Regions from separate parts of the Homo sapiens genome. Here all the other regions are linked to region 1. Evidence: fine-mapped expression QTL. A gene starts in region 1. Each other region holds a variant in brackets. All regions are shown on one strand. Distances are from middle to middle.

Region 1 (10,682 bases):
TGAGGCAGGACAATCCCTTGAACCCAGGAGGCAGAGGTTGCAGTGAGCTGAGATCGTGCCATTTGCACTCCAGCCCGGCAACAAGAGCGAAACTCCATCTCAAAAAAAAAAAAAAAAAAACTTACTCAAACAAAAAGTTTATATCTATCTATCTATCTATATGTATCTCTTACAAACTGTATACATATAAACTGCATATATACACACACAACTAAAAAAGAAAAGCACACTGGGCACAGTAGCCCACACCTGTAACCCCAGCACTTTGGGAGGCTGATCTGGGAGGATCGGTTGAGTGCAGGAGTTTGAGACTAGCCTGGGCAACATAGCAAGACCCTGCCACTACAAAAAAAAGTTTCTTAATTAGCCAGGTGAAGTGGTGCACTCCTGTAGACCCAGCTACTTAGGAGGCTGAGGTGGGAGGATCACTTGAACCCAGGAGTTCAAGGCTGCATTGAGCTATGATCACACCACTGTACTCCAGTGTAGAGAGATGTTGTCACCCCTACTGGGTGACAGTAACACCCTGTCTCTAAAAACAAAACAAACAAAAAGCCAAGGAGTGCTGTTTCAGATGTGCTATAAAGGCCACCCTAGCAAGAGGCAGCCACATTTATAAGTGCTGACAGGGACCTGAAATAGCAATGTGGTCACAGGAAGGGAGAACTTAGTGAGATCGGGTGGTTCATGAGGTGTCCCCTGGATGCATGAGTAGTTGTTTCCTATTGGGGCTGTTAACAAATTACCACAAACTGAGAGGTTGAAAACCACACCAATTTATTATCTTACAGTTCTAGAGGTCAGGAGTCCAAAATGGTTTTCACCAGGCTGAAGTCTTGTCAGTGCGGCTTTGTTTCTCCACGGAGGCTCTGGGGCAGAATCCAATGCCTTTTCCAGCTCCTCCAGGGGCCACCTCATCGCCTGGCCCCAGGCCTTCTTGCCATCTTCACAGCCAGAAGCTTCCTTGCTTCATGCGCAGACCCTCGTGACTCCCCTTCCCTTATAAGGGCCCCCATGATTACTCAGGGCCCACCTCAACCATCCACGGTCATCTCCCCACCACGAAATCCTGAACTGAAGCACAGGCGCCGGGTCCCTTTTGCCACGCAAGGTAACACTTTCCCACGTCCTGGGGTTCCAAACCTGGACATCTCTGGGGGCTGTTATTCCACCCACCGTCATCAGTGAGGCGCCTTCAGGAGGGGCTGTGAGGTCACGTGAGGTCGGCTTCAGAAGGGCTAGGTTTGAGTGCCTGGAGGACACTGGCAGGAGGCGCCCCTGGGCTCCATCCATTTACCACGCACGCACTCAGCACCCCTGAGACCATCCCTGGGGCCTACAGGAGAACCCTGTACCTCAGCAGCCCTGAAACCTGCTTTCCACTTCCGGACCTTTCTGAAATCAAGACGCATCTTTAGATCAATGGCATCTTACTGTGTCACCGGCAGGCCTCTTCTTTCTTAGTGACGTTTAAAGGAAGGTATCTTACCCCTGATGGCTTCTTGGAGTGAATGAAATTCCGGTGTGAGCAGGCACTAGAAGGGGCCTCACAAGAGTGTCAGGTGACCCCACTCCGCCCTGGCCCCCAAGTCTTTCCTAGTTGCTCATCTGGCCCTTTCTGACCTGGGATCCCAAGTGTCCTGCAGCTCCAGTGCCCAGACCCCCATAACTAACAGACCCCACTAAAGCCACACACATGCTCAGCTCTCCAACCACGGTGGGGTCCAGGAGCCACCCCTCCCGCTAGGTGTGCCTAAACCATGGGGATCTGACTCAGGGGCTCTCTCTCGGCCTGGCTGCAAGCTGAAAACACCTGGGGGCTTCCAAAATGCCCAATGCCTGGGCCACAACCTAGACCAGCTCAATCTGAATCTCCAAAGAGATATTACAGCTCCCCAGGAGACTCCAAGGGGCAGCCAGAGTGCAAAACCGGAAGAAACCATCTAACGTGGGGCAAGGGAGGCGTAAGGCAATGCTGGTGGGGCGTGGAGGTGGAGGGTGCCAGGCCCAGGCTATAGAATTACATCTGTCTATTTCCCATGCCCCTGCCACCAGACTCTGAATTCCTGGAAGGGGACCAACCCAGCTACCTCAGTTTCCTCAAGGCACTAGCCCTGTGCCAGGCACATAGTGGGGTCCAGAGAATGTAGGCCGCAGGGCCTCCAAGGCCAGGCAGCAAAGGCTTTGTGCCAAGAAAGGTCTGGGAAAGGAGCCCACTGGGTCTGGGCCAGCCCTTTGATTCCTGTGATCTCCAGTGAGTCACTGCCCCTCTCTGTGCCAGTACAATGCACACTTGGCCCACACTTGGCCACTGAGTTTGCACTTCACTGAAGGGCTGTGGGAACGACGGCAAGGATAGAGGAAAGCCAGATTAGGGAAGACACTGGCTCTCAGAACCTTAGGGATCTCGGTCTTGGGCCACTCATCCCACTTCTGCCCAGCATCTAAGGAGCTTGAGAGGGTGAAGCGAGAGTAAGAGGGTTCCATGCTCACCCCCAACAGGGTCCCAATGTCTTCTCGATGCCCTGGTCCTTCTGGGCCTAAAACATCCACTTCTGGGGCTCTGTCCTCTGGTGGCTACAAGGATAAAGAATCTGAGGTCCTGAAAGCCAAAGACCTAAGAGGAATCGAACAAGAAACCTGGGAGAGGAGCACAGAGCAGCGCAGTTGGGGGTGTTTACACGGCAAGCAGAGTCCAGGCAGGGAGGCCACAGGATACCTGACAGGCACCTCCAAGAAGGATCTTCATGGGAGTACTCAGGGACCAAGACAAGTCCAAAGGGACTGTGGAGAAGGCCCCTGGCTTCTGGCCATCAGCACAGCCAAGGCCCCAGTACACAACTAAAGGCTTTTATTGGGAAAGGGAAATTGACTGAAAAATGGCCTCCAATTTCCTCGCTGCCTGAGACACTTGGTGCCTCCTCCACAAAGTCCAGGAAAGAAGGGCCCACCAAACTGGGCCCCCAGCAGGCTCAGGTGTAGAGGTCAAAGTCAATGCGTTTGGAGTTGTAGAACTGACCACCAGGGGGGTCCAGCTTCCGGCAATAAACACCGTCCGGGAAGTAGCCTTCACTCACCCAGGTCTGCAAGGAGAGGGCAGAGCTGGGGAACAACTGACAGGAGTGGGGGAAGCAGGGACAAGGCAGGAGGAGGGAGAAAGCAGCTCACCTGCATCTGGGCGCTGGTGAAGGGCCCATACAGCTCGGCATCCCCCGTGTTCTCCCACTTATATTCCCACATCACATCCACCAGACCATCTCCCCGCGACTCTGCTTCTAAAATAACAGGCAAAGCCATTTGGCCTCCAGTGTCTCACTTCCTACCCACTGCCCCCTCCTCTGTCCTCCAAGCTCACCTCCTCTCTGGGTAGGGGTTGGGGTCTCCAGTTCCTCCTCCGCCAACTCCTCAGCGAACATGTCCAGGGAGGGTGGGGGTGTGGGATTGTGGGGTCCTAGGGTCTGACACCCCAAACCCTTCAGACGCATAGCCAACCGTTCCCTTGTTTCCTGGTACACACCAAGGTTGCCCCGGGCCACCATCTGGTCGGCCAACCCGGAGAGCCGGTCCAGGCGCTGAGGGGAACTGGGTTGCCCAGGCCCCTTTCTCCCTTTGCCTCCTCCTCGGGCCCCCAGACGCCTCAGTGCCCCAGCCACTGTCTCTCTAGGCAATAGGAGCTCCAAAAGTCCCTCCAAGAGGGCTTGGGCACTCATTGAGGTCTGGCCCAAGCTGTCCTCCTCCTCCGAGTCTGAGGCCTGGCGCTGGCCAGGTGGCCGCTCCCGGATCTTCACCTGTAATGGGAAGATGGAGTGATTTCCCACCAACTGCCACGGGAGCAGGCCCAGCATCTGCCACTCCCAGGCCCCAGCCACGCCAGCCCCTGGGCCGCACCCAGTCAATGTTGTCCAGCCAGCTGTCTCGGATCTGAGCATCCCGGTTCAGGAAGTAGTTGCCATCGGCATCAAAGTGGCCTTCCTCCATCTCCTCCTGCAGGTTAAAGGGTGTGATCCGAACACCCCCCTCGCTGGGGAGTGTGGCTGCCTCCTGACCTGCACCAAAGACACAGGTGCCCTTTTCCAGGCATGGAAAAAAGAGACCGGAGCCTCCCTCGCTCCACACCACCAGAGGCCCCTACTTGTTTTTCCAGCAGAGTGTATTCTTGGGTACAGCTTACCTTCTACATCCTCTGAGGCCAAGATGTCATATTTGCTGGACCCCCCATCATCATCATCCTCCTCCTCATCGCTATCCAAAGAGTGTTTGCCTTTAAAGCGGCTCCCAGGACCCCCTGACCCAGCCACAGGGTCCACCAGCTGTGAGCAGGAGCCAGAAAGTTGAGAAATGCAGGTTACTGGCTACCTCCCCAAATACTTCCGGATCTGGACCCAAATATTCCCCAAATATTTCAGGATCTCGACTACTTCCCCAAATATTTCAGGAGCCACACTAAAGACGCTCCCAACCCATTCCTCAGAGAACCTGAAAAAACTAGGCTTTTCTCTGCCTGCCCGCCCCGCCCCTCTCCCGCCAGCTTTCTTCCTCTTCAGGCTTCTAGCTCCTCTTTCCCCCACACAAAGCAGTCTGGCCCCCTCACCTTCTTCTTGGGGACAATGATTTCATCCTCATCCTCCTCATCTCCCACGCCTTGGAAGGTCACTTTCCTCTTTGGCATGACGGGGCAAAGAGGTGTTTCTCAAGCTGAGGAAAGGATGCAGAGGAAGGGAACCGGGTGAGGAGGGGACTCGCCAACAGACGCAGCACAGCAAACATTTTTCCTGGTCTGTGACAGGTACAGTTTGGGAGCGGAGGGAGCACAAAAGCAGGGGCCGAAAGGAAGCTGGCAGCCAGGAGGCCTCCAGGACTTGGGTCTAGCATCCGCGAGTTAAACGGGGCGGGGACGGAGGAGCGGACCCTCTGGATCCCCCGACCCTGGCTGAAAGGAGACAGGCTTCACCACGTGACCGCCCCCAACTCCAGCCCCCGCAGTCTGCGCGCCACCGGCTCCACGGGCTGACCCCCGCTCTCTACCCTGGCTCTCTCGGAGCTCGCCGGGCCCCGGCAGACCCAGGACCTGGCGCTCTCGCCACCCCGTTCCTCCCTGCTCCGAACTCCCAATTCCGTGTGGTGAGCCCCAACTGTCCCGGGCTGTGTACAACTTAGAGGGCCACGGGGATTCGGGCGGTCCCACCCTCGCGCACTCACCTGGGAATCCGCGGAAGGCGAGGTGGAAAAAAGAAGAGATGCTTGCGCCAGGGCTACATCCGGGGCACCCGGCCGCCATCACCCGGAAGAGGACTGCGGAAGGCGCCCGGGAAGCCCGGAAGTGGCTTCACTCGGGTTAGGGAACTAACTGGAAGAGCGGGCGGAAGTATGCGATAAGCGAGCGAAGACGCCTCCACCCTCTCTCCCGCCAGAAGTGACGTCAGTCACGTGGGAGGACAATGGTGAGAAGAGGGAACCTAAGAATTCCTGGACTCTGACTGGGCGTGAGAAATGGCCGGAAGTAGCTTCGAGTCCGTCATTCAAGCAGTAGAGGCTCTGGAGAAAAACTGGAGCGCATCTGCTTAAAGGGCCGCCCAGGGTCAGGATGGAGGGGCAAAGTCCGAGCAGGGTCAGTGGGTTGCTGCTCCGTTTTCCTGTCCTGGGTTCAAGTCACCCTTCCCCCAGGGCTAAGGGCTCAGCGCCCCTACCGTCTCGTTAGAAATCCTGCCTTCCCATTCCTATGGTCCAGTGGTCAGCCCTCCTAGCCTGAGAGGTGCAGCCTTGCCTCTCCGAGGGGAAGCCTGACTCTCCCGATGGCCAGCCTGGGGCCCCTGGACGGCTCTCCGGGCACTTTCTGAACACACCTCCCTTTAGGACCCAGGGGAAATAATTTGTCCCACGCCCATACCCTGGGCGAGTTCCTGGTTTCTGAGGTGGGAGAGCCATCACTGGAGAGGTGGCATTGGCGCCAGTACTCAGGCCAGAAGCCCCTTGTGCCCTGCTCTCAGGTAGGCCTGGAAAAGGGCAACAGTGCCTCTCTGCAGCATGAAGCCCCCCTGAGCAAACAGGGCCTAGCAACTCCTGCCCAGGTAGCGGAATGTGGCCCAAGCAGAAGGGGGAATTGGGGAGGTAGCGGGGATCAGCCCCTGTGCTGGGACCCCTAGCTCTTGACACTCGGAGCCTGCATCCCCCTAAGCCAAGACTGTGCGCAGGCAGCACGTGCTGAAGCCAGACGAGGACAGCATGAGAGTTCCCCTACTCTTCCCCCAGGCAACTAGATGGGCCACTTCTCTCTCCCTAGGGGTTTCCTCCCATATTGGATCACGATGAAAACTGCACAGAAAGTCCGTGCTCAGTTTCTTCCATGGTTACAGAACACAGGCCCCAGACCAGGAAGGCATTCTGCTAAAGAAGGGGACCCGAAACCTCAGCTACCAGCGCCGATGGTTCATCCTCCGAGGAAACCTCCTCTTCTACCTAGAACACTAGACCGACCATGCACCCCTGAGCCTCATCCTGTTAGAGAACTGCCAGGTGGAACCACACCTTAAGGCTGCAGAACCCTATGCCTTTACCATCCTGACCCCTGGGGTGGAGGGCACAGGTGGGCGGGCCTACAAGCTGGCTGCAGAAACCCAGGAAGAGCTGGAGACTTGGCTGTGGGCACTGGCTGGCGCGAGCTGGAGGCGGCTGGCTGGGCTGCTGTCCCCCCTCCCCCCCCACCAAAACCCAATACTGGGAGCTGTGCCAGGCAACTGGCCAAGAACCCATCTCATCCCCAGAGGACAGTGGCTTTCTAGCCACTGTGAGTACCCCCTCCAGCTTCCAGGAGTTGCATGAGCACTTTGGGAAGGAGATCCGGGTGCTGCACGTGGTACATAGAGAGCTCCAGGCAGCCAGTGACAATGGAGACAGCAGATCCCAGGCAAAGATGGAGCAGGAGCTCAACCAGTGTCTGATGAGTGACTGAGAGATGGACCCAAAGCTAAGAGGTACCTACTTGCCAAGACAGCAGACTGCTTCAACAGAGACCCAGGTCCTGGCTCTGTCCCTCCCTCCCTCGTCCTTACCCCATCCCCCCCTCATCAAATAACAAGGCAGAAAACAGGCCCAGGTACAACAGCAGGTTCTTTTCCAATTCCTCAAAGCGCTGCATGGGGTGGGGGCAGAGACAGAAGAGAATGTAAACATTGGGTTCCACCCCCTGGAGCTCAAGGGAAGACCCTTACCCAGATAGGGACTAACTGGAGGGGTGGAAGGGAACAAGGTGAAAGGTATGGGTCCTGGTGAGACAAAAGCAGGGGGGCCTGAGAACACAGAGCAAGGTGGGTTTGGAGGGAGCACAGCAGGGTGCAGGAAGGGAGATGGGGGACATTTCCTATTCCAGTGCATGTCCCCTTAAATAAACTGGGTACAGGAGCATTATGGAAGGAGAACCAAAGGACAGAAGACAAAGCGAGCACCCCCACCCCAGGCCAACGCCATCCTCTGTACACAATTACAACACAGGTCCAGAATGAGAGCCCTGGCCAGGAAGTGGGGGAGACAGGGAGGGCTGAAGACAGGGAAAAGGAAGCCAGCTCCACCTCATGGTAAGGGGAGCTATGGAGTGTAAGAATCTGAAACTGCTGACTCCCATCACCAGGAGTCACCCCTGGGATGACAACGGGCCATTCAGGACAGCACCTAGGAGGGGACCCAGAGGGAACTGGGGCAGGAGCGACAGAGACCCCAGCTGAGCCTCATGGGAGATGAGAGGCTCCAGACTCATTTGCAGCTGCCCATCTGTCCTGCCCGTGTAGGGATCAGCAGCTGGCGAGGAGATGGGGAACCAAGCCACTTTCCCCAGCAAGGGACAGCCTGACAAGGTGCTAGGGGGTGGCACCTTGGGCCAGGCCTGTTCTTGGCTGAGGGAAAGAGGGGGGCCATGCAGTCCAGCCCCAGGGCAGAGGTCAGAAGTAAGCGTCCTGCCGGGCCTCGGCTGAGGGCCTGTCCCCACCATCATGGGGGCCTGGGGGCCCATCTGCCTTTCGACGCAGCGAAAGCTTCCGGCCTTGAGCCTTCTTCTCCTGCTTCTGCCGCTCCTTCTCCTGCTTCTCTCGCTCCTTTTCCTGCTTCTCTCGCTCTTTCTCCTGCTTCTGCCGCTCCTTCTCCCGCTCCTTCTCCTGTTTCTGCCGCTCCTTCTCCTGTTTCTGCCGCTCCTTCTCCTGCTTCCGGGTCTCCTTGCTGGAACCCAAGGGGGTGCTATTGCCAGTGGGTGAGGGAAGGGATGGATGCAGTCCCTCAGCAGTGACCACAGGCCCTGGGGCAGGCCCAGCACTGGCTCTGCGGACGGGGGGCGGCGGGGACGGGGCCCCTCCAGCTGCCCGGGAGCCTCGGCTCTTGAGGCCAGGGAGGCTGAGGAGGCTGGAGGAGGGGCCCAGGGGTGGCTGTTGCCGCCGGCGCTCCTCGTGGATGGCCCGGGACCCATGCAGTCGCCGTGAGGGCCGATACTGCAGCTCCCCCCGCGTTTCCCGCCACTTCTTGAGCTGGGCTGCATTCTCCCGCTCAATCAGTGCTTCTGTCACCGGCAGATTGGTCACCTGCACAGAGAGGAAATGCGTACCAGAATGGAGCTGAGGGTGGGAGCGGGCTGAGGCAGGCAGGGGCTGCGTTGAGGGCACAGGCCTACCTCATGCACCAGGAAGTCTTCCTGCATGCACTGCTGGGGCAGGTTACGCAGCTGCTCCATGGTCTCATACATGCCTTGGCAGGAGCGCAGCTTCTCCACTGAGCCCAGCGTGTGGCGCAGCAGGACCAGGGCCACCCGGAAGATGATCTTAACGCCTGCAGGGGTGGAGAGTAGAGAGCATGGGGTGGTCAGACCCAAGATCTCAGCCTGTCCTGATCAGGATAGACTCACAGCCCCCATCCCCATCTACTGCCAATCTCAGATGAGGAAACTGAGGCCCTGTGAAAGTACATGAGCTGCTATCAGTCTCAGGATCTTGGCAGGGAGAGCAGGCTCTGGGTTGGTGGCAGAACTAAAATCAGGCCTGTTTCTCCAGCCCCCAGCTGCTTATGGTGAAACCTCCACCCAACAAGTACCTTTTGTCCATGGACCACCAGAAATATGACAGAACCCCTGGTAGCCACCACAGAAACCCCAGCCCCTCATGGCCTGGAGGGCCACAGAAGTACCTTCACAGAAAAACATGTCCCAGACACGCAGCACCGACGCCCAGGGCAGGGTGCGGGCGAAGATGCACATGAACCACTCCGTCATGTAGAGCACAGGGTCAATGCGCTGCCGCCGCAGGTGGCGATGCGCCAGCGGGGAGGCCCGGCGCAGGAGTGCAAAAAAGATCTCCCCGTCCAGCTGAATGGCCTCCTGCAGGTGGGACAAGCCATGAGAAGAGGGCCAAGTCAGCTGTGCCCCCATCAGGGGAGAACTGGCCGGCCCTGTGGGCAGAAGCCGGGAAGGCCAGGGTGGGGCAAGGCAAGGACCTGCCTGCAGCCTGGAGGAAACGCCACAGCCCCGGATGCACCCAGCCTCCAGACACTCACCAGCCCTGCACTGTAGTAACCTGGGAGGTACTTGTCGCAGATCTGCACCAGGCACCAAAAGGCTTGCTGAGAAGAGCAAGAACAAGGAGGAGGGGTGGGGCCTGAGAAGCAGGGAGCAGGGAGCTCCCCCATCACCACTGTAGGGTGAGATCCCCCCTGCCCCTCCCGGCCCAGGACCAGGGCGCTGACCTCCGCAGGCATGTGCATGAGCAGGACCGCAGCCACGGGGGCCTGGGCCTGGCAGTAACCCTCGTCAGGCCGGTAGATGGTGTAGGCCTTCAGGATTCGGTACAGGTCCTGTTGCCTGTGGGGGTTGGGGAAGACTGTGAGGGCAGTCACGGGCTGAGAGCTCTGTCCCCAAACCCAGTTCCAGATTCGTCCCAGAGTTTATCACCAGGCTCCTCCATCCACCTGCCCAGTCCTGCTGAGCGAGCTTCAGCTAAAGGCTCAGCCCACAGCAGAGCACTCCAGGCCCCGGGGCTCCGCCTTTGGCTACATACTCCACATGCTCCTGGCCATCCCAGCACAGGCTGCACCCTCGCCCTCCTTCCTCAGCCACATCCCAGAAACCTTCCAGGTCATTTTCTCCAGGAAGCTTTCCACAGCTGCAGCATCAGCCCTCCTCTAGCACTAAATGTCTTTGTCACCCCAAAGCAGTAGCTCCCCAGGGCAGGGCCTGCCTTATCGGTCTCACTGGATTTCATGGTTCTTGGGGAAGGCTTGGAAGCCAGCTGTGCCTCAGCCCTTTCTCCTGTCTCTGCATCCAAAAGAATAAAATCTGTACCCTAGATCTGCTCTTCTTGAGGGTGCCCCACTGCCGTGTCCAGGACTTCTATTCACTCAGCCCCACATCAGAAAAGAGCCCCTTACTCCAAGCCTAAGCAGCGCTGCACCCTGAATTCCATTCCTGCCTGCTCCTCTCCACCTCCACAGCCATTCGCAGCTCAGACCTCCATTTCTTGCCCATAAAAAATGACCTCCCAGATCCTCTCCCTGCCTCCAGTCTCACACATCCTCCTCCTGACCACTTCCCAGAATAGCTTTTCCCAAAACTCCAGGCATTCAAGTGTGATCTTCATTTGTATTTTATCTGCATACCACCCTACTATTTAGTTGACATTTTTTCTCCACTTTGCAAAAGCATCCACGAAATGACA
Region 2 (10,682 bases), 470 kb before region 1:
CGAGAAGGTTGCCAGTGCCCCTGGGCGATACTCAGGGTCCGTGGTAGTGACATTTCCATGTGCCAGGAAGGGGGCGAAGCAGCGATCCTCCTCAAAGGCTGGGAAGGAGTCAGTCATAACAATTAAGCATTAGGACAGGCCTCAAGGGATCTTAAATTGGGGATGTGGGCTGAATTGGGGTGTTCTTTGGCCACTCACTGGGCTTTTTTTTTTTTTTAAACAGTCTTGTGCTGTCGCCCAGGCTGGAGTGCAGTGGTACAACCTTGGCTCACTGCAGCCTCTGACTTCCAGGTTCAAGCAATTCTCATGCCTCAGCCTCCCAGGTAGCTGGGATTGCAGGCGTGCACCACCATGCCCAGCTATTTTTTTTTTTTTTGAGATGGAATTTCACACTTGTTGCCCAGGCTGGAGTGCAATGGCACAATCTTGGCTCACCGCAACCTCCGCCTCCTGGGTTCAAGCGATTCTCCTGCCTCCTGAGTAGCTGGGATTATAGGCATGTGCTACTACGCCTGGCTAATTTTTTGTATTTTTAGTAGAGACGGGGTTTCTCCAGGTTGATCAGGCTGGTCTCAAACTCCCGACCTCAGGTGATCTGCCTGCCTCGGCCTCCCAAAGTGCTGGGATTACAGGCATGAGCCACCGTGCCTGGCCAATTTTTGTATTCTTAGTAGAGACAGGGGTTTCACCATGTCGGCTAGGCTGGTCTTGAACTCCTGGCCTCGAGTGATCTGCCTGCCTCAGCCTCCCAAAATGCTGGGATTACAGACATGAGTCACTGCGCCCAGCCTGGGTTTTTTTTTAATTTTTTTAGAGACAGGGTCTCACTCTGTTGCCCAGGCTGGAGTGCAGTGGTGTGATCACAGCTCATTGCAGCCTAGATCTTCTAGGCTCAAGTGATCCTCCCACCTCAGCCTCTCTGGTAGCTGGGACTACAAGCATGCACACCCCACCCAGCAGCTCATTTTCTGATTTTTTTTTTTTTTCTGTAGAGATGGAGTTTCACCATGTTACTTAGGCTGGTCTCGAACTCCTGACCTCAGGTGATCCGCTGGCCTCGGCCTCCCAAAGTGCTGGGATTACAGGTATGAGCCATTGCCCTGGCGTTGGTGGGTTTTTAAAAACTGAATGCCACTGGGTTTAGCATTCACTCTCCAGACTGTCAAAAAAAGTTCTAACACTCCTCATTCACATATTTATATTGCCTCCCTGGCCTCTGGAGGGAAGCCACTGAGCTAGCCAAATCCCAGCCACCATTCTACAGAGCGGAGGTCCATAGACCAAAAAGCCACTTGCTCAAGGTCACACAAAAGACAATGGCAAAAGCAGGTCTCAAACCCAGATGGTTTGATTCCCAGCCACAGATACTTGGCTCTGGAAACAGCAGAGATAGCGGGTAAGGGGAGGGGTGCCTTCAGAGAACTGGCTGGTGTAGGTGTATTGTCTCCTCAGAAATAACAGTTGGATTCTGATCATCCATGCTGTTGCTGAAACCCAAAATTTCAGCTAATGCAAAAACTACTCAGTTTTTACTTCAAGTCAGCAAAAGTGAACATTTGTAGAGCATTTGAGTTTCTGCCCACCTGATCGGATCTTAGCTGCAAAACTCCCTGTAAGTTAAGATTTAGGTGCCTATGATACCAATGAGGAATTCTTTTTTTTTTTTTTTTTTTTTTTTGGGATGGAGTTTCGCTCTTGTTGCCCAGGCTGGAGTGCAATGGTGTGATCTCGGCTCACTGCAACCTCTGCCTCCCAGGTTCAAGTGATTCTCCTGCCTCAGCCTCCCGAGTAGCTGGGATTACAGGCACCCACAACCACCCCCGGCTAATTTTTGTATTTTTTTAGTAGAGATGGGGTTTTACCATGTTGGCCAGGCTGGTCTCGAACACCTGACCTCAGGTGATCCACCCGCCTCAGCCTCCCAAAGTGCTGGGATTATAGGCGTGAGCCACCATACCCGGCCTTTTTTTTTTTTTTTTGAGATTTTTAATTTTATTTTAATATTTTATTTTTTTATTTTTTGAGACTGAGTCTCGCTCTGTCGCCCAGGCTGGAGTGCAGTGGCATGATCTCACTTCACTGCAAACTCGGCTTCCCAGGTTCAAGCCATTCTCATGTCTCAGCCTCCTGAGTAGCTGGGATTACAGGCACGTACTACCACACCTGGCTAATTTCTGTGTTTTTAGTAGAAATGGGGCTTTGCCATGTTGCCTAGGCTGGTTTCAAACTCCTGGGCTCAAGTGATCCACCTGCCTCAGCCTCCCAAAATGCGGAGATTACAGGCATGAGCCACTGTGCCCGGGTTATTTTATTTATTTTTAAAAATGAGGCCAGATGCAGTGGCTCACACCTGTAATCCCCCCACTTTGGGAGGCTGAGGCAGGTGAATCACCTGAGGTCAGGAGTTTGAGACCAGCCTGACCACCATGGTGAAACTCCGTCTCTACTAAAAACACAAAAATTAGCTGGGCGTGGTGGTACATGCCTGTAATCCCAGCTACTCAGAAGGCTGAGGCAGGAGAACCACTTGAACCCGGAAGGCGGAGGTTGCAGTGAGCCGAGATTGCGCCATTGCACTCCAGCCTGGGTGACAAGAGCGAAACTCCATCTCAAAAAAAAAAAAAAAAGGAAAAAAATGAGACAGGGCCTTGCTCTGTCACCTAGGCTGGAGCGTGCAATGGTGGGATCACAACTCACAGCAGCCTTGACCTCCTGAGCTCAAGCGATCCTCCTGCCTCAGCCTCCCAAGCAGCTGGGACCACAAGTGTGCACCACCACACCTGGCTAATTTTTTGTTTTGTTTTGTTTTGTAGAGACAAAGGTCTTGCTATGTTGCCCAGGCTGGTCTCCAACTCCCAGGCTCAAGTGATCCTCCCATCTTAACCTCCCAAAGTGCTGGGATTACAGGCGTTAGCCATTGTGCCTGGCCACAGTGAAGAATCTTAAACTCATAGAATAGCAGTGGCCTACAACTCTGGAGTCAGGACTCACAACTTGCTATTTTCGGTAAAAGATCTGTGCTGTTTGCACTTTAACACTCCCAGAATCTATCCCGCAATTCATTTTTGCAGATCCACTGTTCTATTTCACTGTTACTTAACCTGCAAGGTATCATGTCCAAATCCTACCCATCCATCACAGCCGAGTGCCAATTCCATTTCTCCCATGATTCATATCAAACACTAGACCCTCCTATCTCTAAGCATTTCATCTTTTTGGTCTCTCTCTTGCTACTGTTTATACAACTCCTCTGTTTCAGCCACAATGAAATTCTGTTTCCCAGACATACCAGGCATTTCCCTACTTGCTGTTTCTCAAAGTTCCTCTCTTTCCTTTTCTTTTCTTTTCTTCTTTTTTTTTGACAGGGTCTTGCTCTGTTGCCCAGGCTGGAGCACAGTGGTGCAATCATAGCTCACTGCAACCTCTGGGGTTCAAGTGGGGTTCAAGTGATCCTCCCACCTCAACCTTCCATGTAGCTGGGACTAGAGGTGTGTGCCACCACACCTGGATAATTATTACTTTTTTTTAATTTGTAGACACAGGATCTCACTATGTTGCTCAGACTGGTTCTCAAACTCCTGGCCTCAAACAATCATCCCACCTTGGCCTCCCAAAGTACTGGGATTAGAGACACGAGTCACCACAACTGGCCTCAATCTTCCTCTTTTAAAATATCCTCTGTTGGCTGGGCAGGGTGGCTCACGCCTGTAATCCTAGCACTTTGAGAGGCCGAGGTGGGAGGATCACTTCAGCTCAGTAGTTGGAGACCAGCCTGGGCAACATAGTGAGATGCTGTCTCTACAAAAAATGTAAAAATTACCCAGGCATGGTGCCGAACGCTTGTGGTCCCAGCTACTAGGGAGGCTGAGGCAGGAGGATCACTTGAGCCCAGGAGGTTGAGGTTGCAGTGAACCATGATCGGGCCACCGCACTACGGCCTGGGCGACAAAGCAAGACCTATTTCAATAATAATAATAATAATAATAAAATACCCTCTATCCTTTAAGGCCAAGGTGAAATGCCTCTTCCTCCATGATCACTTCCTTGTTTCTACCCCTTCACATTCATTCCTCTTCTTCTGGTAACGGCATCCCAATTTTAATTTTGGGACGCAGGCCTTCCCCACTCCCAGTCCACTAGGTTAAGTTGGAGCCCACCAGGGAAGGCCACGTGAGGCAGATTAGCCAATCCCAATACTCCCTTCTCCTAGCTCAGTGATTGGCTCAGGCTAAGGCCAACCAGGATCTTAGTCAGGTCAATGAACGCCTCTCCTGGCATTTTTGCTGAGCTCTCAGGAAATATATGAGTGTTCTCTCTGATGAGGTTACTCGGTTGGTGGTATGGGCTGGAGGAGGTGGCTTACACCTGTAATCCTGGCACTTTGGGAGTCCCACATGGGCGAATCACTTGAGCCCAGGAGTTCAAGACCAGCCTGGGCAACATGGTGAAACCCCGTCTCTACTAAAAACCCAAAAATTAGCTGGGCGTGGTGATGCATGCCTGTAATCCCAGCTACTCGGGAGGCTAAGGAATGAGAATCGCTTGAACCTGGAGGAGGGGGGCTGCAGTGAGCTGAGATCGCGCCACTGCACTCCAGCCTGGGCGACAGAGAGGAACTCTGTCTCAAAATAAATAAATAAATAAAAATAAATAAAAACTAAAAACTGTCAGGCGCAGTGGCTCACGCCTGTAATCCCAACACTTTGGGAGGCGGAGGCGGGCAGATCACCTGAGTTCGGGAGTTCCAGACCAGCCTGACCAACGTGGAGAAACCCCATTTTTACTAAAAATACAAAATTAGCTGGGCATGGTGGCGCATGCCTGTAATCCCAGCTACTCGGGAGGCTGAGGCAGGAAAATCGCTTGAACCCGGGAGGCAGAGGTTGCGGTGAGCCGAGATCATGACATTGCACCCCAGCCTGGGCAACAAGAGCAAAACTCCGTCTCAAAATAAATAAAGGCCGGGCGCGGTGGCTCACTCCTGTAATCCCAGCACTTTGGGCGGCCGAGGCAGGCGGATCACAAGGTCAGGAGATCGAGTCCATCTTGGCTAACACGGTGAAACCCCGTCTCTACTAAAAATACAAAAAAATTAGTCGGGCGCGGTGGCGGGTGCCTGTAGCCCCAGCTACTCGGGAGGCTGAGGCAGGAGAATGGCGTGAACCCGGAAGGCGGAGCTTGCAGTGAGCCAAGATGGCGCCACTGCATTCCAGCCTGGGTGACAGAGCGAGACTCGTCTCAAAAAATAAATAAATAAATAAATAAAATAAAAATTAAGTTGGTGGTATGTAAGTCGGCAGCTATGTCCATCACACAGGGAAAGTGCCTAAGGATGAAGCCAGCACAGAGGAAAGAACCGAGATACTGAGATAACTGGTCTCTGGGCTATGTACCTGGATCCAGACATTCATGAAGCTTAAACAGAGAAGGCTGCCTGGGGGAAGGAGAAGGGGTCCCTAGAAGAGATCCTTGCAGTTTTGGGGCAGGGAAGCGAGTCACGTTTCAAGGAACCCAGCACGGAGATGAACAGGCATAGAGTTTGTGCTTCCGACTATGCTTGGTGTCAGGAAGAGGGGAAGGTGTGGCGGTTGGGGTCCTGTGGGGGAGTGGGTCACTTACCTTCAAATCGAAGGCTTAACAGCAGGGGATTGGCAGGTGTCTCTGACAGCAGCTCCACGTAGAGGGACTGGGCGTCACTGATGAGACCCCGCTCGGGGACATCGTCCATGTCCGAATCATAGATCACGGGGGATAGGGGGCTGCCCCCTGAGCGCACCATCAGCCTGGGATGGACAGAAACGTGACCAGGAGCTCAATCTCCCTCACAAGCTGCCTCACCCCTTGCCTGCTTTCCTAACTTATTTTTATAGCTGTTATCATCACAC[A/G]TAACTATATGCCACGCACTCTTCTAAGCCCTTACACATTCTATCTCATTTAATTTTCACAAGAACTCTTGAGTCAGACACTATTATTATCCTTTATTTTATAGATGAGGATATTAGGGCATAGAAAGATCAAGTAACCTGTCCAAGGTCACAGAGCAAGTAGTGGCAGGGCTGAGATACCAAGTTGCTAGGTAAAGGATGATAATGATGATGAAGATAGCAGATGCTTGACCAGGCATGGTGGCTCAGCTCACACCTGTCATCCCAGCACTTTGGGAAGCCAAGACGGGTGGATCACCTGAAGTCAAGGAGTTCAAGACCAGGCTGGCCAACATGGTAAAACCCCATGTTTACTAAAAATACAAAAATTAGCCAGGCATGGTGGTGCATGCCTATAATCCCAGCTACTCAGGAGGCTGAGGCAGGAGAATTGCTTGCATCTGGGAGGTGGAGGTTGCAGTGAGCTGAATCCGTGCCACTGCACTCCAGCCTGGGTGACAGAGCGAAAGTCTGTCTCCAAAAATAAATAAATAGATAAATAAGGCCAGGTGCAGTGGTTCATGCCTGTAATCCTAGCACTTTGGGAGGCTGAGGTGGGTGGATCACGAGGTCAGGAGATCGAGACCATCCTGGCTAACACGGTGAAACCCCAACTCTACTAAAAAAAAAAGTACAAAAAATTAGCCGGACGTGGTGGCACACGCTTGTAGTCCCAGCTACTCGGGAGGCTAAGGCAGGAGAATAGCTTGAGCCTGGGAGACAGAGGTTGTAGTGAGCCGAGATCGCACCACTGCACTCCAGCCTGGGCGACAGGGTGAGACTCCATCTTAAAAAAAAAAAAAAAAGAGGATAGCAGACACTTTTATAGTGCTTATTGTCCCAGGTGCCATTCTAAGGACTTTATATAATTTCAGCACTTATCCTCACAGAAACCTGAAGAGGGAAGTATTGTTATCTCCATTCTACAGATGAGGAAACTGAGGCACAAAGAAGTTAAGTGATTTGTCTAAGGTTTCACAGCTACACTTCCTAAGAAAGTCTTAGGACTGGCTGGGTGTGGTGGCTCACGCCTATAATTCCAGCACTTTGGGAGGCCAAGGTGGGCAGATCACCTGAGGTTGGGAGTTTGAGACCAGCCTGACCAACATGGAGAAACTCCATCTCTACTAAAAATGCAAAATTAGCTGGGCATGGTGGTGCATGCCTGTAATCCCAACTAATCAGGAGGCTGAGGCAGGAGAATCACTTGAACCCGGGAGGCAGAGGTTGCGGTAAGCCAAGACTGCGGCACTGCACTCCAGCCTGGGCAACAAGAGTGAAACTCTGTCTCAAAAAAAGAAAAAAAAAAAAAAAAAGGCTTAGGACTAAGCTGTGATGCATATCTCAACCAGGATCCACCCCAGCTGTGTCCAAGTCCCCACTTAGCCTCCCTACTTCCCTGAGGTGGGGACTTCTTTTTTTTTTTTTGAGACGGAGTCTCATTCTGTCTCCCAGGATGGAGTGCAGTGGTGCGATCTTGGCTCACTGCAAGCTCTGCCTCCCGGGTTCACGCCATTCTCCTGCCTCAGCCTCCCGAGTAGCTGGGACTACAGGTGCCCACCACCATGCCCGGCTAATTTTTTTTTTTTTTTTTTGTATTTTTAGTAGAGATGGGGTTTCACCGTGTTAGCCAGGATGGACTCGATCTCCTGACCTTGTGATCCGCCTGCTTCGGCCTCCCAAAGTACTGGGATTACAGGCATGAGCCACCATGCCCGGCCAAGGTGGGGACTTCTGACCCAAGACCCAGACCCTTACCGGTCATTGTCCTCATCCAGCGAGACCCTTTCAAAGTGCAGGTGCAGCCGGCGCCCCTCAGCTGCTTCAATGACCCAACGGCAGGTGAGGTTGGGCCCTACGGCTCCCCCAGGCTCTGGGGACACGATGCGGCCCAGGGTGGCATTGTGGATGGTGCCACCACAGGATGCTGTGGGCAGAGGAGGGGTACGTTAAGGCCAGCCTGAGGTGAACTGTCCTTCTCCTCGGGGCCTCGGCCCGTTTTCAGAACTGTTGCATTCACACATTTGGCTGGGACCCGGCCCAGGGCTGGCCTCTGTCCCATGGAGTCACTCCAGAGGATGGGACCTTCTCCAGGCATGAGCCAGGAAAGAAACCAGCCCCGGTACGGGAGAACCCCAGGATTGACACCTCCTAGGATGGAGACACCACTAAAATGAAGACTCTCCAACTGCGGATACTCTAGGATGGGGAGTTACAAGGATCCCTAAAATTCAAAGCCTCAGCTGGGAAATCTTCAGGACAGGACTTTCAGAGTGAAGACACCACGGGATGGGAATCCCAGTAAGAGGCTCTCTAGGATAGAAGCCCTCTGGACATGAACCCTAAAAATGGCTTCCTCTAGGATGAGGACGCTACCCCAGAAGGGACCTCCAGAATGGTGACTCCCAAAATAAAATCTCCAGTGGGACACCCCGAGATGGAGACCACCCAAGGATGGAGAAACCCCAAGGAGAGAGACCCTCCGCACAAAGAGCTCTGGCTGCAGACCCCAGGATGGGGACTCCTCAGGGTAAACACCCCTTCAGAATGGGTTTTCCCCAAAGGTGGACACCTGGACACCCCCGAGATAGGACCCTCCCAATGGGGTTCCCAGAACAGATGCCCCACCCACTGTGGCAGGAGACTCACCCATGCAGCTGGGGGTTTCACCGTTCCAGGATGGCCGGGTGCCATTGAGGCAGATGAGGGTCTCCTCTCCCTGCAGCTGGTAGCCCGAATCACAGTGAAAGGTGGCAGTGCCCCCAGGGTGCAGGTCCGTCACACTCACGTCCCCATGGGCCGGCCGGGGAGGGAAGCCACAGCTCAGGAGGTAGGCTGCACCAGACAGACAGCGGGTAGCAGGGCTCACTTTCCCATGCCACCCTCTCATACTGATCCCCCAGCACTTCCCCCCTCTCCTTTCAGGCCAACCTTCCAGGGGCACACACTGGCTCCATACTGGCGTACATACCGAGAAATAAGAGCTCCTCACACAGGCACCTTGCCTCGCGAACAGGAAACTCCAACACCCCTTATCTCCCCCACTCATTGTAATTCACCCTCGTTGGCCCCCATTTTATAGATGAGGTATCTGAGGTTCAAACAAGTTATTCTGGACCCCGCTACTCATTTGTTGTGTGACTTCAGGCAAATCAATGAACTACTCTGAACTTCATCCAGCTGTAATAACAGTATTTGCAGAGCTTGTTCAGCTCCCAAAGTGAGTCCACACAGAGATTTTGAGGTCAGCAGACAAAGATTATGTGACCTGGCTAGGCATGCTGGCTCACGCCTGTAATCCCAGCACTTTTGGAGGCCGAGGCAGGTGGATCACGAAGTCAGGAGTTCGAGACCAGCCTGGCCAACATGGTAAAACCCCGTCTCTAAAAAATACGAAAATTAGCCAGGCGTGGTGGTGGGTGCCTGTAATCCCAGCTACTTGGTAGGCTGAGGCAGGAGAATCACTTGAACCCAGGAGGCAGAGGTTGCAGTGAGCCGAGATCGTCCCATTGCACTCCAGCCTGGGCGACAAGAGCAAAACTCTGTCTCAAAAAAAAAAAGATTATGTGACCTGTTTTGCAGGTGTGAACACTGAGGCTCCAAGTTATTAAATGTCTCTTTTGATTTTTCTTCCCTCCACACACACAGCCTTTCTTCCACCAAGGTGCCCTGTGGTATACCCTCAGCTCCTCAGCTTCCATCCAGAAGAACCACTTGAAACTTCTTTTTTTTTTTTTTTTTTTTTTTTTTTTTTTGAGATAGGGTCTCACTGTGTTGCCCAGGCTGGAGTGCAGTGGTGTGATCATAGCTCACTGGAACCTTGAACTCCTGGCCTCAAGCAATCCTCCTGACCCAGCCTCCCAAGTAGCTGGGACTACAGGTTTGTGCCACCATGCCCCGCTAATTTTTAAATTTTTTGTAGAGATGACATCTCAGTATGTTGCCCAGGCTGGTCTTGAACTCCTGGCCTCAAGCAAACATGAAACTTGTTGAGGAAATTTGACTATTTTGTCTTTTTGTTTTTGTTTTTGTTTTTGAGGAGAAGTCTCACTCTGTTGCCCAGGCTGGAGTGCATTGGCGCAATCTCGGCTCACTGCAACCTCCGTCTCCCGGGTTCAAGCGGTTCTCCTGCCTCAGCCTCCCAAGTAGCTGGGATTACAGGTGTGTGCGACCATGCCTAGCTAATTTTTGTATTTTTAGTAGAGATGGGATTTTACCATGTTGGCCAGGGTGGTCTCGAACTCCTGATCTCTTCAGACCTCCTGACTTCACTTTCACTGGGGGATTCATTTACAGGCCACTGAGTATTAAGATCTTTAAAGACAAAATAGTCTTTAAAGGCACAGTGGCTCACGCCTGTAATCCTGGCACTTTGGGAGGCTGAGGCGGGCGGATCACCTGAGGTCAGGAAAAAGACCCAGGCCTTGTCCTCAGGAGTCCATTGTCTACTGAGATGAACATAAGAACAACCTTCTAGAACAAAGTGGTTTCAATAAATGGTAGCTTTGGGAATGGCTGCCCATGCCCAACAGAATCAAGTCTGAATGCTTTAGTTTGACATTCAAGCCCCTTCCATAGTTAAATGCAGCCCAGCACATTCCAGGTTCAGGGTTGATCTCCCAAGACCGATATAGCCTACACAACACAGTTTTGTGACTCCTTAATTTTCCACCTCCATATTTTCGCTTGTGCTCTCCCCCTACTTTCTCATCTTTTAAGAGATCAGACTGGGGGGCTTATGTACCACCTCTTCCAGGA
Region 3 (10,682 bases), 35 kb before region 1:
TACAGGCGTGAGCCAACGTGCCCGGCCCCTTCTTCACTTCTTTAACCAGCTTAGATTTCATTGTGTGTCATTTCAACAACACTCTTGCCTATACCCTTAACTCTTAAGATTTTCATCACAGCCATCTGGCAAAACCCCAATCCTGGATAAACCCAACGATCCATCAATAAGCACCACACTCCCAGGTCCTCCAGTGTTTACTTCCCATTCTATACATGCACTATCCAGACATTCCCATTATCTTCAAATTCCAAAATATCCTATCCACCTCCCCTCCCCATACACACATTCTACTTCACCAACAAAAAAAAAGGTACCAGCTGGGCACGGTGGCTCACGCCTGTAATCCCTGCACTTTGGGAGGCCAAGGCGGGTGGATCACTTGATGTCAGGAGTTGGACACCAGCCTGGCCAAAATGGTGAAACCTCATCTCTACTAAAAATACAAAAATTAGCTGGGTGTGGTGGTGCGCACCTGTAATCTCAGCTCCACGGGAGACTGAGGCAGGAGAATCGCTTGAACCCAGGAGGTGGAGGTTGCAGCGAGCCAAGACTGCACCACTGCACTCCAGAGCCTGGGCAATAATAAGAGCGAAACTCCATCTCGGGGAGGGGTGGGGAAGATACCATAAAATACCTGCACCCGATTCTAGACCTTACTGAGGATTCCATCTACTTCTACCTTACTGTAACTTTTCAAATACTTTTCCCACTGAACTAAATCCCCCCCATAAACATGCAACACTTTCTAATGTATCCCATTGAAAAATGCAAAAACATATAAAAAGGAAAAACTCCATCAATCCCACATGTCCCTCCATCGAACAATCTGCCTTTACTTGCTGCAGCCAAACTAAAGTTGTCTAGACTCCCCTCTCCCATTTCTTCACTTCTTCTAGCTCCTTAACACACACTGGTCCAAATTCTGCCCCATCACTCTTGGCAAAATCCATTATGACCTCCAGGCTGCTAAATCCAAGATACAGTTCAGGCCTCAATCTGCTCATCCTTTCAGCAGCTTTCACAGGGCTGCTGAGTAGGGTTGAGCAGTTTTGCCCTGCACACAGGTGCCCTGCAGAGGAATGAGGTGGGCTGAATGAAACTCCTTTTTTAAAAATTCTTGGCTGGCATAGTGGCTCACGCCTGTAATCCCAGCACTTTGGGAGGCTGAGGCGGACGGATCACTTGAGGTCAGGAGTTCAAGATCAGCCTGGCCAATATGGCGAAACCCCATCTATTAAAAATACAAAAATTAGCTGGGCGTGGTGGCGGGCACCTGTAATCCCAGCTACTCCGGAGGCTGAGGCAAGAGAATCACTTGAACCCAGGAGGCGGAGGTTGCAGTGAGCCGAGACTGTGCCACTGCACTCCAGCCTGGGCAACAAGAGAGAAACTCCATCTCAAAAAAAAAAAATTGTTTATGCCAACTAATTGTACACCTAAATGCACCAAGTTCATGACTTTCTCCTTGCATTTATTTATTTATTTATTTATTTATTTTTTAATTAGGTCTCACTCTATGTTGCCCACGTTGTAGTGCAGTGTGTGATTACAGCTCACTGCAGCCTTGAACTCCTGGGCTCAAGAGATCCTCTGGTCTTAGCCTCCCCAGTAGCTAGAACTACAGGTATGGAGTGGCTCTCTGCCTTTATTTCTAACCCAAGCTACCTTACAACCTTAAAAAGAGATGCTGCTTCGCCGGGCACAGTTGCTCTCGCCTATACTCCCAGCACTTTGGGAGGCCAAGGCGGGCGGATCATGAGGTCAGGAGTTCGAGACCAGCCTGACCAACATGGTGAAACCCTGCCTCTACTAAAAATACACAAAAACTTAGCCAGGCCTGGTGGTGTGGTGCCTGTAGTCCCAGCTACTCAGGAGGCTGAGGCAGGAGAATCATTTGAACCCGGGAGACAGAGGTTGTAGTGAGCCGGAGGTTGTAGTGAAGCCGGAGGTTGTAGTGAGCCGAGATCACGCCGCTGCATTCCCACCTGGGCGACAGAACAAGACTCCAAAAAAAAAAAAAAAAAAAGAGAGACCCTACTTCAGCTCTCAATTGCATCGCTTATCTTCCCCTTTTGTCAGTTAAGTCCTGGAAGTACCCTAGAAACCTATCATTTGGCCTGGGAAATTGCCAAGATTAAAAGGAAATGTCTTACTCTATGACCTCTTTAACAGATGAAGGACAAAAAAGGCTGAAAATGTACAAAGATATGCATCCCTCCCCCACCAGTTAAATGCCAAACATAGGCCAGGCACAGTTGATCACACCTGTACTCCCAGCTGTTTGGGAGTCCGAGGTAAGCAGATTACCTGAGTTCAGGAGTTCGAGATCAGCCTGGCCAACATGGTGAAACCCAGTCTCTACTAAAAATACAAAAAAATTAGGCAGGCGTGGTGGTGCACATCTGTAATCCCAGCTACTCAGGAGGCTGAGGCAGGAGAATCGCTTACCCAGAGGCGGAGGTTGCAGTGAGCTGAGAGCTCGCCACTGCACTCCGGCCTGGAGAACAGAGTGAGACTCGGTCTCCAAAAAAAAAAAAAAAAAGGCCAAACATAGCACATTCCAACCAAGATTAAGAATCACTAAGAGTTACATTGCACCACTGCACACCAGCCTAGGTGACAGAGCGAGACTCCGTTTAAAAAAAAAAAAAAAAGAGTTACACACTGCAGAAATCTAAAGAATCTCAAAAGTAGACTGGGACTTTATAATCAAGGTAAAGGTGAAGTCATGTTTACCAATATAAGAAATGAATGGGCCAGGCGCAGTGGCTCACACCCGTAATCCCAGCACTTTGGGAGGCCGAGGCGGGAGGATCACAAGGTCAGGAGATCGAGACCATCCTGGCTAACACAGTGAAACCCCGTCTCTACTAAAACTACAAAAAAATTAGCCGGGCGTGGTGGCAGGCACCTGAAGTCCCAGCTACTCGGGAGGCTGAGGCAGGAGAATGGCGTGAGCGCGGGAGGTGGAGCATGCAGTGAGCTGAGATCGCGCCACTGCACTCCAACCTGGGTGACACAGCGAGACTCCGCCTCAAAAAAAAAAAAAAAAGAAATGTATGCAACCATTTTTTTCAACTCCTGAAAATAGTCAGATAATAACTGTAGTTATTCTGATAAAGTTCCTTTAGCCAACAGGTTGAAGCACATTCCCAGCGAATAACATGTTTATAAGATTTTCTAACAATTGCATATGTTAAATCTTCTCTTTAAAAATAATCCTGGCCAGGCGCGGTGGCTCACACCTGTAATCCCAGCACTTTAGGAGGCCGACGCAGGTGGATCACTTCAGGTCAAGAGTTCAAGATCAGCCTGACCAACATGGAGAAACCCTGTCTCTACTAAAACTACAAAATTAGCCAGGTGTGGTGGTGCATGCCTGCAATCCCAGCTACTCGGGAGGCTGAGGCAGGAGAATCACTTGAACCTGGGAGGTGGAGGTTGTGGTGAGCCGAGATGGCGCCATTGCACTCCAGCCTGGGCAACAAGAGCGAAACTTCATCTCAAAAACAGGAAAAAAATAAAATAAAATAAATAAAAATAAAAATAATCCTAGGCCAAGCTGGCTGCAGTAGCTCACACCTGTAATCCCAGCTACTCAAGAGGCTGAAACAGGAGGATCACTTGAGCCCAGGAGTTTGAGACCAGCCTGGGCAACACAGTCAGACTGTGTCTCTAAAGAAAAAAATCGTCATCATCCTAGGCCAGTCCAGACAACATAGCAAGACCTCCAACTCTAAAAGAAAATGAAATAAAAAATTTTAAAAGTCAATTTAATTAGAGGTCTCAAGTAATTCCAGAAGATATGGTCTCACAAATCAAATACTGAAAAAGGAAGACGCCTTTCAAGATAATCACACTATTATTTTAACTGCAGGAAAATGTATTAAATGAAGACAGCTTTTGCTAGCTGCTGAAACATACTAGTAAGAACAGGAAACGATGCTCCCACCATGCTCAGCAGTAGCCAGAAATTTACTGAGGTCTTTGTATTTAGCCTTAAGTATAAGACACCTAGGAAACTTCAAAATCATCACTTAAGCCACTTTAAACCCACAGTCTATACAAACCCTATCTTTTTCTTTTGTTACATTTTATACTAAACACACTTTAATCAGATTGACATAAGTGATTTAAAAGAAGTAACTTTTATAATTCCCTTTTACAAGAAAAAAAGAAACAATGTTTCCAGATACTAAGTTCCTTAAGAGACAGCAATCATTTATTATAGATTTACAGTACTACAATTTCAAATAGTACCAGAATCTTTTTTTTTTTTTCTTTGAGACAGTGGCACAATCACAGCTCACAGAAGCCTCGACCTCCTGGGCTAAAGCAATCCTCCCACCTCAGCCTCCCAAGTAGGTGGGACTAGAAACTCATGACACCATGTCCAGTTATTTTTTTTTTTTTTTTTTGAGACAGAGTCTTGCTCTGTCACCCAGGCTGGAGTGCAGTGGTGTGATCTTGGCTCACTGCAACCTCTGCCTCCTGGGTTCAAGCAATTCTCCTGCCTCAGCCCCCAAATAGCTGGGATTACAGGCATGCACTACCATGCCCAGCTAATTTTTGTATTTTCAGTAGAGACGGAGTTTCACCAGGTTGGTC[A/G]GGCTGGTCTCGAATTCCTGATCTCGGTGATCTGACAGCCTCAGCCTCCCAAAGTGCTGGGATTACAGGTGTAAGTCACCATGCCCAGCCAATTTTTTTATTTTTTGTAGAAACGAGGTCTCACTATGTTACCCAGGCTGGTCTCCAACTCCTGGGCTCAAGTGATCCACCCACCTCCCTGTCTTGGTCTCCCAAAGCACCACCATGCCTGGCCCAAAATCTTGTAATTGCTTAATACTGTATATACATTCTTATAATGATATGATATTTCCCATCTTTGTTTAGAAGATGCGTGTGGTTCTTCTCCACCCCCTCAAGTACTTAAAACTATCACATTGGCAGAGTACAACTAAATGTTTCTGGCATCCTCCCTCCTCCCATTAAAAAAAAAATTAAAATAAAAATATGTATATACACACCCATACACACTACACCAGAGGGAAAAAAGCAACTCATCGTTCAACTGGTGTTCTTATAAGAATCAGTTCTTAAATTCCAACTGTGTAGTAAAAGGTAAGCAAGCTATAAGCTACCTTTTAACCTACCCTTTCTCTATATACATTCCATTTACATTGTACTTGCCCTCCAATCTATGCAAACAGTCACAAAGATTAGATTATGTTTGCTGGCTTATCATTTCAACTAGTAACAAATTCTTAAGGTGTGAATACAAGATATGGAGAAAAAATGATGATGCAGAGCTATGCTGAAATTTCTTATCGTTCAACTTGAAATAGGTTTACAGCCTAATGGGACTATACTAGAAAGTGTAGAAAGAGGGCAGGCACGGTGGCTCACACCTGTAATCCCAGCACTTTGGGAGACAGAGGTGAATGGATCACAAGGTCAGGAGTTCAAGACCAGCCTGGCCAACAAGGTGAAACCCCGCCTCTACTAAAAATACAAAAAAAAAATTAGCTGGGTGCGGTGGCACATGCCTGTAATCCCATCTACTCAGGAGGCTGAGGCAGGATAATCGCTTGAACCCGGGTGGCGGAGGTTGCAGTGAGCTGAGATCGCACCATTGCACTCCAGCCTGGGGGACAGAGCGAGACTCCGTCTCAAAAAAAAAAAAAAAAAGGAAAAAAGAAAAAAAGAAAATGTAGAAAGAGAGCCACTCCACTGCAGAGCAATTAATTCTATCTCCACTAATATTTTTCTAAATATTCACTGGAACAGTTTTAAAAATAATTTCCTGAACTTTAACCCTCCCAACGTCTTCAAAAGGCAAAAATTACCCCCTCAGAGGGACACAGCTGGTAGTGCCAATACAGAAGATCTTTGTCTTCCCATTCTTAGTCCATAGCTTTTTTCATGACACCAGCCTCTCCTAAGATAAATATCTGTGAAGGATCAACTTTTTAAAATACACACATTCTAGCTGGGCACGGTGGCTCACATCTGTAATCCCAGAACTTTGGGAGGCTGAGGCGGACGTATCACCTGAGGTCAGGAGTTTGAGACCAGCCTGGTCAACACGGTGAAACCCGTCTCTACTAAAAATACAAAAATTAGCCAGGCGTGGTGGCATGCACCTGTAATCCCAGCTACATGGGAGGCTGAGGCAGGAGAATCGCTTGAACCCGGGAGGTGGAGATTGCAGTGAGCCAAGATGGTGCCAACTGCACTCCAGCCTGGGCAACAGAGCAAGACGCCGTCTCAAAAAAAAAAAAAAAAAATACATTCTTAAAAATAAAGACACTTAGAGAGGAATCTAAAACACACTGGTTCTATTTTTATGCTAAGACAGCAGGTGGATTTTTTTTTTTTTTTGGAAAAAGAAAAGGGAACAAATTTCACATAGGAGAAGAGTTTTTGAAATCTTTGCACAACAGGGTGGCCATAGTAAATAATGATGTATTTATTTGCAAAGAGAAGACACAGATAACAATAGCAATAATAATAATGTATTTCAAACAATTAAGAGTAAATTTCAAATGCCTCACCACAAAATATAAGTAAGCAAAGTAAGGCGATAGTATGTTAATTAGCATGATTTAATCATACTACATTACACACATATATATAAACATTACGTTGTACCCTATGTGTACAATTATGATTTCTGAATTAATATTAGAGTGGGGAGAACAATGATTAATTTTTACTTCTTCAGTAAGATTACAATGAAAATGTAGAGAGCACTAGCATTATAGTAACTATACGATAGGCCACTTTAAATAAAAGGCATCTTTTACAAAATTTTTAGTCAATAAATTGATTACCACATACTTACGACCTATTTGCTATTAAGTGTAATTTATAATTCTAGTATTTTCAAAAAAGGAACATATTAAAATCCTATCAATATTTCAAATAATGACAGAATTAATCATTTTTAATAGAATCCTTACTCAGGTCCTTCAAAAACAATATAAACTATGACTTAAGGTAGATTCCTTTAAATCTGACTAATGAATAAATGTTAAATCTCAAATTTCATAGTCCCAGTGCTGGAAAACCTATATTTTTATTTTTCTTCACGTTTATACAAAGAACGTACAGACAGGCAAGAAATGTAATCAACCTTTTTAGGAAAGAATCCCAGGATTTGCTTTCTTTTCAATTAAATATATATGAATTCTGGGGGATACTGGTGATCATCTCTGGATCTTTTTACTCATCTAATGAGAAAAGAGTCTCATTATACAAAGAGGATAGTCAAAAAGCCTAATGATTTCCTCACATAAGTAGATTTTTCTGTCTGGCAAATCTGAAGAAGTCAACATAGAATCTGTCATTAATGCATTGAATCTGAACTTCCACTATTCAAATCAAATTAGGACCTGGAAATAAAGTGTTAACACTTCAGACAAGAAATTCCAGGGTTTGTATCATCAGGAATATAAACCAGGGACACTCTCAAGAGGCTGAAGAGCAAGAGTCATGCACTGCTTCAGAGAATTAAATACTCCAAGATGAAAGTTAAAATTTCAAACACACATATCACACATACACATCTTTTAACATCAGGTTGAAATGCTAAAGGGAACAGAGTAAAGGTATGTTTTCAATTAATAAATTTAAATGAGAGAAAACTTTAAATTCAAAGAGCTTCAGTAAAAAAAAAAAAAATATTAGCAATGTTATCAAATGTGGACGAAAAGCTAATATATGTCACTATGTAATCCAAGACATATTCATTAGTGGCGCCTTTTTTCTGGGCTATTAATATATTAGATGCCATCCAAAAACAAATATCTAGTAAATATTAAGTTTAACGACTTCTTAAAAACCTGTAGGTTCCCAAAGACATATACATGTATGTGCAGTGAGGCCACTGCTAAGCCTCTAACAATATTCTTGTAGACTACTAAAGTTCTCTATGATGATAAAAAGCGTGATAAAAAAAATCTAGTGTCTCCCCTTAATAAACAAAGAACGAGCATAACTTAGGAAGTTCGGTAACAAAAACAATCTATAATTCTGGTACCAGAAATCCCTCTGAGGCTGGGCGAGGTGGCTTACACCTGTAATCCCAGCACTTTGGGAAGCCAAGGCAGGGGGGATCACCTGAGGTCCGAAGATGAAGAACATCCTGGCTAACAGGGTGAAACCCTGTCTCTACTAAAAATACAAAAAATTAGCCAGGCGAGTGGCACATGCCTGTAATCCCAGCTACTCAGGAGGCCAAGGCAGGAGAATCACTTGAACCCAGGAGGTAGAGGTTGCGTGAGCCTAGATCGTGCCCTTGCACTCCAGCCTGGGCAACAAGAGCAAAACTCCATCTCAAAAAAAAAAAAAAAAAGCAACAAGTCCCTCTGAAAAAAGTTTTAAATAATAAACAAAAAAGTCTATAACAGGTTTTTAAATAACTATAAAGTCCTACACATATTATATGAATGCCAACATAATAATATGAATATGAATATCAACAGGGTATCCAAATCCTTTTTTGAAAAGGTCTGAAAATTAATATGAAAGAAGTAATTCAGTATGTTCAGAAATCTGTTGATTCTAGGCCAGGTATGGTAGCTCACACCTGTTATCCCAGCACTTTGGGATTTACAAAATGGCATTTCCTCCTCACCTAAGGTCAGGAGTTCAAGACCAGCCTGGCCAAGATGGTGAAACCCCATCTCTACTAAAAACTACAAAAATTAGCCAGGCGTGGTGGCAGTCGCCTGTAATCCCAGCTACTCAGGAGGCTGAGGTAGGAGAATCACTTGAACCCGGGCGGCAGAGTTTGCAGTGAGCCAAGATCTCACCACTGCACTCCAGCCTGGGTGACAAATAAAATAAAATAAAGAAATCTGTTGATTCTGGAATATTTGCGTTTCATTCCCCAATCAGCAGGCATGCAATTGGCAAGAAGTGTGTTTCCCCAGGCATTCTAATGGGATGCCAGAAGGCTCAACCCAGTGCTTAAATTTTTAGTGATTACATTGCTTAAATAATGTAGACAGATACAATAGACTCAAAATAAATCAATGTGTAAAAAGACTTTAAATATGTGCACAAGGTATTTTTCAAGATGGATAAAACATATGAATCTTAAATTACCATATTCTTTTATTTTTTATTTTTTCTGAGACAGAGGTTTTCCTCTTGCTGCCCAGGCTGGAGTGCAACAGCATCATCTCCACTCACTGCAACCTCCGCCTCCCAAGTTCAAGCAATTCTCCTGCCTCAGCCTCCTGAATAGCTGGGACTACAGGCGTGTGCCACCATGCCCAGCTAATTTTTGTATATTTTTTAGTCGAGATGGGGTTTCACCATGTTGGCCAGGATGGTCTTGATCCCTTGACCTCATGATCCGCCCACCTCGGCCTCCCAAAGTGCTGAGATTACAGGTATGAGCCACTGCGCGTGGCCAAATTACCGTATTCTTTCTTCTGTAGAAAGATCTGGCCACTCCAGTCCATTACGATACTGTCCTTTTGAGCCTGCTCAATCAGTTTGTTTAAGCCCTGCCTCAGGCCAACAAGGCTGCCATAAGAGGAATGCTTTCCCCAAAAAAACATCCTACAAGAACAGTGTTGCAATCTCTGGAGTTAACACTTAATATAAAAACACAAACTTGCAGGATCTCATTTTCATGTATTTACTTGAGGAAAGACACAAATATAGAGTGGATGCTATTTATTGATGCACTTAGTAGGAAAGAAGGGGATAGCAAAAGTAACAATTTTACCAGATCCATGCACATATGCAGGTTGTATTTTACTGGAGATGGCACACATAAAAATTCCAGATAGTGGTAAGGATATGAAAAAAAGTGGCAGGAATGGGTGTGATAGTGAAAAAGTCACTGCATATCTGTACCTTGACTGAGGTCATGGTTACACAGGTGTATACATTTGTCAAAATTTACTGAATTTAAGACCTATACAGGCCGGGCGTGGTGGCTCACGCCTGTAATCCCAGCACTTTGGGAGGCCGAGGCGGATGGGTCACCTGAGGTCAGGAGTTCCAGACCAGCCTGGCCAACATGGTGAAACCCCATCTCTACTAAAAGTGCAAAAACTAGCCAGGCGTGGTGGCAGGCATCTGTAATCACAGCTACTTGGGGCGCTGAGGCAAGAGAATCACTTGAACCCGGGAGGCGGAGGTTGCGGTGAGTCGTGATCGCACCATTGCACTCCAGTCTGGGGGATAAGAGCGAGACTTCATCTCAAAAGAAAAAAAGAAAAAAAGAAAAAACACCACCACCTATACATACATAAATTTTATCTCAAAGAAGCACCACAATAGAATTCAAAAACGAATTCAATTTAAAAAGGAAAAGTACACTCGATTAATACAAGATGGAAAAGAATAACATTATAAAACCAAGTATCTCTGCATGAGCGAACTCCACAAGAATTTAGTAAGTTATACTCTACATTAAAAAAAAAACAAAAAACAAAAACTCAGAATAAGGGAGCATTTCCTATACATATGAAACCACAAAATTTCTGTACTCTTTACTGTTAGGCCTCTATACAAGGGGAAGTATGTTTCATTTTATAGTTCCAAAAATAAAATGGGCTCTGAAAAACTTCAAGATAGTCAAAGACAGGTAACCAAAATGATGACAATGTGAAAAGATTAACAAACAACAGCTCCTCTAAATCATTAAGGGTGGTCCA

Evidence for each region. PIP is the estimated chance that this variant, and not a neighbour inherited with it, causes the effect. A credible set is the group of variants that fine-mapping cannot tell apart.
Region 2: its variant is the best candidate, but not a certain one, in a credible set for the expression of CD2BP2 in whole blood (TOPMed, PIP 0.63).
Region 3: its variant is the best candidate, but not a certain one, in a credible set for the expression of CD2BP2 in whole blood (INTERVAL, PIP 0.68).

The regions. Positions count from the first base shown.
Region 1 is chr16:30,350,013-30,360,694 of GRCh38, forward strand. CD2BP2 (CD2 cytoplasmic tail binding protein 2) reads right to left here and starts at 5,296. Exons shown (of 7, transcript NM_006110.3): 1 at 5,200-5,296; 2 at 4,592-4,695; 3 at 4,172-4,310; 4 at 3,889-4,046; 5 at 3,356-3,788; 6 at 3,169-3,275; 7 at 761-3,083. The coding sequence starts at 4,669. The coding sequence ends at 2,973. TBC1D10B (TBC1 domain family member 10B) reads right to left here. Exons shown (of 9, transcript NM_015527.4): 5 at 9,715-9,829; 6 at 9,526-9,591; 7 at 9,160-9,349; 8 at 8,651-8,805; 9 at 7,090-8,561. The coding sequence ends at 7,932. CD2BP2-DT (CD2BP2 divergent transcript) reads left to right here and starts at 5,422. Exons shown (of 2, transcript NR_184233.1): 1 at 5,422-5,608; 2 at 6,281-10,315. RefSeq lists enhancers at 4,310-5,261, 4,346-5,545, 5,236-5,530, 5,262-6,213, 5,268-5,327 and 1 more.
Region 2 is chr16:29,879,967-29,890,648 of GRCh38, forward strand. It overlaps SEZ6L2 (seizure related 6 homolog like 2), which reads right to left. Exons shown (of 18, transcript NM_001243332.2): 6 at 8,574-8,759; 7 at 7,683-7,851; 8 at 5,620-5,783; 9 at 1-98. Among named protein-coding and RNA genes, the nearest start is that of SEZ6L2, 14 kb to the right of the region's middle. The variant A/G (reference allele first, on the strand shown) is at 5,886.
Region 3 is chr16:30,314,881-30,325,562 of GRCh38, forward strand. It overlaps the pseudogene SMG1P5. Among named protein-coding and RNA genes, the nearest start is that of CD2BP2, 35 kb to the right of the region's middle. RefSeq lists a silencer at 10,170-10,219. The variant A/G (reference allele first, on the strand shown) is at 4,612.